Linked DNA regions of Homo sapiens. The protein of the gene in region 1 purifies or fractionates together with the protein of each later gene. This does not show direct contact. Each region holds a gene or a part of one and is shown in the gene's direction. Other genes may lie near its edges.

Region 1 (3,823 bases):
TATGGCTTTGTCTTAAAATTCTCAGCAATGTTTTGTTTTCTTTTAAAAGCCTGAAGATTATAAACAGACATAAGAGCAAGCCCACTATTTAGGAATTTTTAATTGCCCATTTTGCTCATTACACATATTTATTTAGGTTAAAACCAGTAATATGGTGGCTCTAAGTCCGTTTGTATTAGTTTTAGCATGCTCACAGACTCCTGTGTCTATACAAAGATGGAGGATTTCGTGACATGGCTTCCATGGATGGCAGGGAGGAATAGGGGCATCCAACAGTTGGCCTGGTCTTTCTCTCTCCCAAATGGGTAAAGGGACTTTTCCTTCCTTGCTGCTAATTTTAGTGATGAAGCAGATCATTGGATGATCCAGTTATCTGTATGACATAGTCACAGCATCCTCTCCTTTATCCCAGTTGCTGATGTGCACCCTATGTGTGGATATCACAAACTTTGAACACATCACAGGATCAGAATCAGTCTGTGTTGCTTAGACTGTTAGCTTGCACTTTCAATTTAATGGACTCCTTGGCTGAAATAGTTTATTTGCACAAGAAAGACTAAACTCTCAAGCAACTATAATGATATGATACCTCAGAATGATTTTTTAAAAATTATTTCAGATGCACAAAATAGGCTATTTGATGTAAATAGCCAGAAATACTCAGGGATATTAGTTATAATTGATTATTCTTTTCTGTCATTAAACTTAACTCAGCAGTATATCTTTTAAGATTAGGAATCTTTAATTCTCAATTTTAAAAAATCATATTATAAAATAAAGACTCCCATTTGCTATTTTAAAGACGTATTTAAATATTGTTCTTTTCAGGCTTATAGCCTATTCACCCAATGGCTGCCCTGCATGAAATCTAGTCCCTGTTGAAATCTGGTTTTTATGACCTGAGTGACAACTTTCTGGTTTTAGTCCATGGAGGACACATACTCCTGCTTTGACAAATTTGCTTAGTACATCTGATATTAATACATGTGTATTCTCACAAACAATTGATTTTGAAAATGTTTGTAAATACAAGGGTATTGTGTGTTTTATTAAAGCTTGGAGCTGACAAGTGTAACCATTATTATCTTTAGTTTCTGCACCATTAGTTTCAAAATTCTCACCTGTCATCTTTGCCTGACTTAAGAAGCAGCAGCACATGCTGATGAAATCCAGCCGGCTTGAAACCAGAGATCCACAGAAGCATGAATGTCAGGGGCAGTAAAGCATGGTTTCTGGCACAGCCGGGGTCTTTTGTAACGCTGTGTGAAAAGCAAACACATGATTTAGCCAAATGATTTTTCCGTGCTATCTTTGGCATGGCAAGGAGTTGACAGATGGAAATGTAACCACACCGTGTTTTGGTAGGAGAGCATGGAGCTGGTGTACAATAAGTCCAAGCCTGTCGCTGTTACCGGAATGGCTTTCCCAACGGGAGACGTCAATAACTTCGTGGTTGGCAGTGAGGAAGGTACAGTCTACACGGCTTGTCGTCATGGAAGGTGATTTTTCTGTTTCTTTACTGATGACATGTTCTTCATTTCCGAAAGTCTGTTATCACATTCTGGATTTTAACCACCTTGCATTATGAGAAAGCATCTCTGGAAAAATGGAAAGCACGACTTCAACTCTTCATTATCTTAAAGAGCTGCATCTGCTCTGGTCATTAGCTGTTCATAAGACTGTGGTGGTTCACACTGCCTTGAGGGAAAAAAGCTCGAGCTTCTGAGCCTATCATAACAGACCACTTGCACCTTCCCAGCATCTCCGCATACCTTCAGGGTCTAGCCATGTGCCCATCAGAGATAACAATCCCCAAATATTTCTTATCCCTCCATGCCTCAATGAGTTTGCATACTCAACTTCTTTTACCAGTTCTAGCATTTCTCCCTTTTTGGCCTGGTTAATTCCTCCTCATCATTCAAGAGCCAGCACAGAGATCATTCCATGTGAAACATTTTCTGACTCTTGGGCAAAGAAAACCACTCCCACCTTTAAGTCCCATAGAATTTTCAATTCTCTTATTCATTCACTCTTCCAAGGAATATTTACTAAGAACCTACCATGTGCCAGGCATCATCAAAAGGATACATTAAAGAACAAGACAGACCTAGAGTTCATATTCTAGTTGAGGGTAAAATACTAATAAGCAAATAAATATATAGTTTAGGATGGTAAGTGCAATGGAGAAAATTAAAGTAGAATAAGTGGGATAGGACTATAGGCTGTCAAGTTGACAATTTCATATATTTTCCTTATGCTTCTATAATAGCATTAATCGTATTTTAGTTTATTCATTCATCTGCCATTTTTCTCTTACTACATTATTTCCATTTCATCTTTGATTTCCTGCACAGTACCTAGGACATAGTAAGTGAGGAGCTAAAAATATATATTGGGGATAAAGAAATGATATATAATGTAATCCATCCAATCTAAAGAAGTGCCTTAAAAGCTTTCCTCCCAGTCAGATGGGTCAGAACAGAGTGAGTCACACAAACCACCATGCAGTTCCCAGGTGATAAGAACTCTACCTTAACTGAGAGATTCACAATGCCCCTGGAAAAGAGTTGTCAGTATAAAGTGGAATCCAATAGTTTGGACTAGATTGTAAAATTGCATGCAAAACTTAACAGGTGGCCTCATGTCTTTTGAAAGGGTCACTATGTTCACACTGGTGCTTAATTTGTCTTTTACTTTAGTAGTTCTTATTCCATTGATTTTTTTTCATCTCTTGCACTCATCCGAGGCTATTAAGATTTAATGAAGAACCACAAATTGTTCCAAGTTCATATCCCTGTGTTTTTGTGATTTGTAGAAATGACAAGCATCCATGGCTCAGCTATGTGACTTTTTCCATTCAAACTATACAAGCTGTTATGTTCCTGCTGTTCTGCACGTAGAAACAAGCAGTATTTGTCCCCTCACATGATTCAAAGATGACTTAGGAAGATATGCCTCACAGTCCATTCCCAATGATCCTCCTTCATAAACCCTGGCTAAAACCACACATTAAAGCTTTATCAAAGCATAAAAATATTTGATAAAGTTATTCATTCATAAATATATTTGTTGTATGCCTACTTTGAGCAAAGTGCATTGTTAGGTTCTGCAAGGCCTGCAGACGTCATGTAAACCTGGTTTCTCTCTTCAAAATAACTGATGACGGTGAGAAAGATAAATACACAAATATCTGGAACATGAGTAGAATGTCTTAAGTGGCATGAGAGGCATAGAGAGTATAGTAGGCCAGACCTGGAGTCACAGCTTTATCTATATGCGTATTAGAATCAACATGGCATAGGTTCAGTTAACTTAACCCATGGTTTTACCTAGGTCCTTGATTATCTACGAAGGCTATAGAATACATTCATTGATAATTTCCAGATTTTTTTCATTGCTATAAAGTGAATAACATTTTACATGATGAACATTCTTGTTCTGTGGCTACTGTACTTTCTAAGCACTATCAGAATATGCACTTTGGTTCAAAAGAAGGGTCCCTATGGCACACACCACAAATCTTTTTACAACAAGCTGAATTTTGCTTTACATTGGTCCATCCATCTGAAATATAAAATACAGACCTTAGTAACATTGTAACGTAGCAGGCATTGGCTTTGTAGTCATTCTAAATGGGTCATATAGGTCTATGGGGGAGAAGCAGGGGATTGCTATTTTTCACCTAACATAGAGAAGGTGCAAATCCACTTCCATAAATTAAACAAGGTCCTCATTTTGCACCCTATAAATCCTTTCAGGATGCTGTTAAGAGCAAGTGGAGTCTCACCAGGGGCCACTTCAAAGATCAGTTCCTCGGGTTCAT
Region 2 (3,378 bases), on another chromosome or scaffold:
GAGAGCATGGCACAGTGTGCACAGTGTATGCCCATCTGTGCAGGCAGGGAGCAGGGCTGCCGGGTACCTGCAGGAATGTGGGGGACAGGGCAGGAAGGTCTGCAGCATGATAAGGGTCTGGCCAGAGAGCCCTCAAATGTCAAGCTAAGGAGTTTTGACTACTGTGAGGGCTTTTGCAGCTGCTGGGTTTTGAACAGGGTGCAGACTTAACCAGAGCTCAAGTCAGCAGAGCTGAATTAGGATGGTAATAGGAACAGTGTGGAGACTAGACGGAAGGGGAGGAGACTGGAAGCAAGAAGCCCAGTTAGGACACAGTCATAGCCATAGAGAGGGGTGGCCAGGCCTGGAGCCATAGGCAAGCAAGCAGTGGGCTCAGACTTGAGTGCCAGCAGCAGGGCCTCCCGCAGAGCCTGGGAAAGCCCATCCGGGGCTCTCTGGGGGCTTGGCTGCAGCAGCACCCATAGGGCCCCAAGGCAGCCTGTTCTGCCCCTGGTAATCTACTTGAGAAGAGCTGAGCTGGGTGCGGTGGCTCATGCCTCCCAGAACTTTGGGAGGTCCAAGTGGGTGGATCACAAGGTCAGGAGTCTGATACCAGCCTGGCCAGCATGATGAAACACTGTCTCTACTAAAAATACAAAAATTAGCTGGGTATGGTGGCACATGCCTGTAGTCCCAGCTACTCGGGAGGCTGAGGCAGGAGAATTGCATGAACCCGGGAAGTGGAGGTTGCAGTGAGCTGAGATCATGTCACTGCACTCCAGTCTGGGCGACAGAGCGAGACTCTGTCTCGAAAAGAGCTGAGAATTCACTAGGCACAGCGCCTGGCACAGTGCACTCCAATGCCAGCAGGCCTCAGGCCAGCCACAGCACGCCCCAGACCATGCTGCGAGGGCTTCAGTGCACAGAGTTCTGAGAAAGCATTGGGGCTACAGTGAGCACAGGGAGGGCCCCAGGGGACCTCCCCAGGCAGCCCTTGGCTCCCAGGGTAGAATCTCTGTGGGCACCAAGGCCGTAGGTTGACTTTTTTCTTCTTACCTTCTGCCCCACTGTTAGAAGGCTTTAAAACCTGAAGATGGGGTTGACCCAGTACTCTGAGAGCCCTTCAGGTTTTCTCTCCTTCTGCCCTGGGAGCTGGAGCCGGGTGTCCCAGGAGGAAGTGGGGAAGGGCAGCCACCTTGAGGGATGGAGGGCAGTGCTTTATCAGGGGTTGTCCAGAAAAGCAAGAGAGGACATAATGCTGAGGAAGATCGTCTAAGACTGGGGCTGGGCGCAGTGACTCACCCATGTAATCCCAGCATTTTGGGAGGCCAAGGCAGGAGGATTGCTTGAGCCCAGGAGTTCAAGACCAGCCTGGGCAACACGGCGAAACCGTCTCTGCAAAAAGTACAAAAAATTAGCCAGGAGTGGTGCTTGCCTGTACTCCCTACTACTCAGGAGGCTGAGGTGGGTGGATCACTTGCACCCAAGAGGCTAAGCTACAGTGAGCCATGTTTGTACCATTGCACTCCAGTTTAGGTGACATAGCGAGACCTGGTCTCAAAAAAAAAAAAAAAAAAAAAAAAAAAAAAAAAAAACTATAGAAAGAACTAGAAGCATGAGGCTGCCAAGTACCAACAAGAAGGGTGAGAGATCTCTTGGGGCCTTAGATGCCACCAAGCTGTGAAACTGGCTGGCCTGGAAATCCAACTCTAATGAGGCAGGCAGAGAGAAGGGGATGGATGGGGTTAGGGGAGCAAAGAAAGTCTCATAAAAATAGCTGCTGGCAAGTACCCCAAAAGGAAAGAAAACTCACCATCAAAACCCCCAAAACTGCAAAATTCCAAACAGTAGCTGATGGAGACAAATCAGCAGTTCAGTGGAGCCATCCCTCGCAGCCTCAGAGCCTTGATCATAGTTGCCCACGGTCTTGGCCTGGTTCTCACCCTACCAAGAGCTGAGCAGAAAGCTGGAAGGGAGGTCCCACAGCAATAGAGCTCCACTGCTGCAGACCCCAAGTTAATCACAACAGGCACCGTTGACCAAGTGCCTGGGCTGTGCGTTAGCTCCTTTTCTCTCTCCAGCACCGTGCAAGGTAGATGTTAGGGATTTTTTTCAAGGTCACCCAGCAAGCAAGTGACAGCTGAGATTTGAGCCGAAGTCTTTTCTGTTCCCACACAAGGGAATGCTCAGGCATTTCTGCAGAGGGAGTGGCGGACAGATCCTTCTCTCCCTCCCTAGACCTGGGTCCTGTGCTGGTCAGTTGACTCTTTTCCGGGAAATATGGCATCAGGCATTGAGCCCCAGGAGAACAATAACTGGGGAATAGCTTGTGAAGACTGGGGGGTAAAGGGAAAGAAGAGAAGGAAACAGCCCTTCCAAGGAACAGTTAAAACTCTCAGCTTCTGACCAGGCACGGTGGCTCACGCCTGTAATCCCAACACTTTGGGAGGCCTAGGTGGGCGGATCGCCTGAAGTCAGGAGGTCGAGAGCAGCCTGGCCAACATGGTGGAACCCCATCTCTACTAAAAATACAAAAAATTAGCCAGGTGTGGTGGGAGCCTGTAATCCCAGCTACTCAGGAGGCTGAGGCAGGAGAATCGCTTGAACCTGGGAGGTGGAGGTTGCAGTGAGCCAAGATTGTGCCACTGCACTTCAGCCTGAGTGACAAGAGCAAAACTCCATCTCAAAAAACAAAGGCTGGGCACGGTGGCTCATGCCTATAATCCCAGCCTTTTGGGAGGCTGAGGCAGGCAGATTACCTGAGGTCAGGAGTTCGAGACTGGCCTGGCTAACATGGTGAAACCCCGTCTCTACTAAAAATACAAAAATTAGCTGGGTGTGGTGGCGGGCACCTGTAATCCCAGCTACTCGGAGGCTGAGGCGGAAGAATGGCTTGAACCCAGGAAGTGGAGGTTGCAGTGAGCTGAGATCGCATCATTGCACTCCAGCCTGGGCGACTAGAACAAAACTCCATTTCAAAAAAATAAATAAATATGGCCAGGCGTGGTGGCTCACGCCTGTAATCCTAGCACTTTGGGAGGCCGAGGAGGGTGGATCACCTGAGGTCAGGAGCTCGAAACCAGCCTGGCCAACATGGGGAAACACCATCTCTACTAAAAATACAAAAATGAGCCAGGTATGATGGTGCATGCCTGTAATCCCAGCTACTTGGGAGGCTGAGGCAGGATAATTGCTTGAACCCGGGAGGCGGAGGTTGCAGTGAGCCAAGATCACACCACTGCACTCCAGCTTGGGTGACAGAGCAAGACTCTGTCTCAAAAATAAATAAAATAGGCCAGGCGCAGTGGCTCACACCTGTAATCCCAACACTTTGGGAGGCTGAGGTGGGCAGATCACGAGATCAGGAGATCAAGAACATCCTGGTTAACATGGTGAAAC

What was found.
Region 2: the proteins of DYNC1I1 (region 1) and AMBRA1 purify together in Homo sapiens (affinity purification with western blotting, with the first as the bait; one study listed by BioGRID). This does not show direct contact.

Annotation. Positions count from the first base shown.
Region 1 is NC_000007.14:96,034,254-96,038,076, forward strand, and holds part of DYNC1I1 (cytoplasmic dynein 1 intermediate chain 1), read left to right. Parts: intron 1-1,365; coding exon 1,366-1,499; intron 1,500-3,823. UniProt on the Homo sapiens protein: Acts as one of several non-catalytic accessory components of the cytoplasmic dynein 1 complex that are thought to be involved in linking dynein to cargos and to adapter proteins that regulate dynein function.
Region 2 is NC_000011.10:46,398,670-46,402,047, reverse strand, and holds part of AMBRA1 (activating molecule in BECN1-regulated autophagy protein 1), read left to right. Parts: intron 1-3,378. UniProt on the Homo sapiens protein: Substrate-recognition component of a DCX (DDB1-CUL4-X-box) E3 ubiquitin-protein ligase complex involved in cell cycle control and autophagy.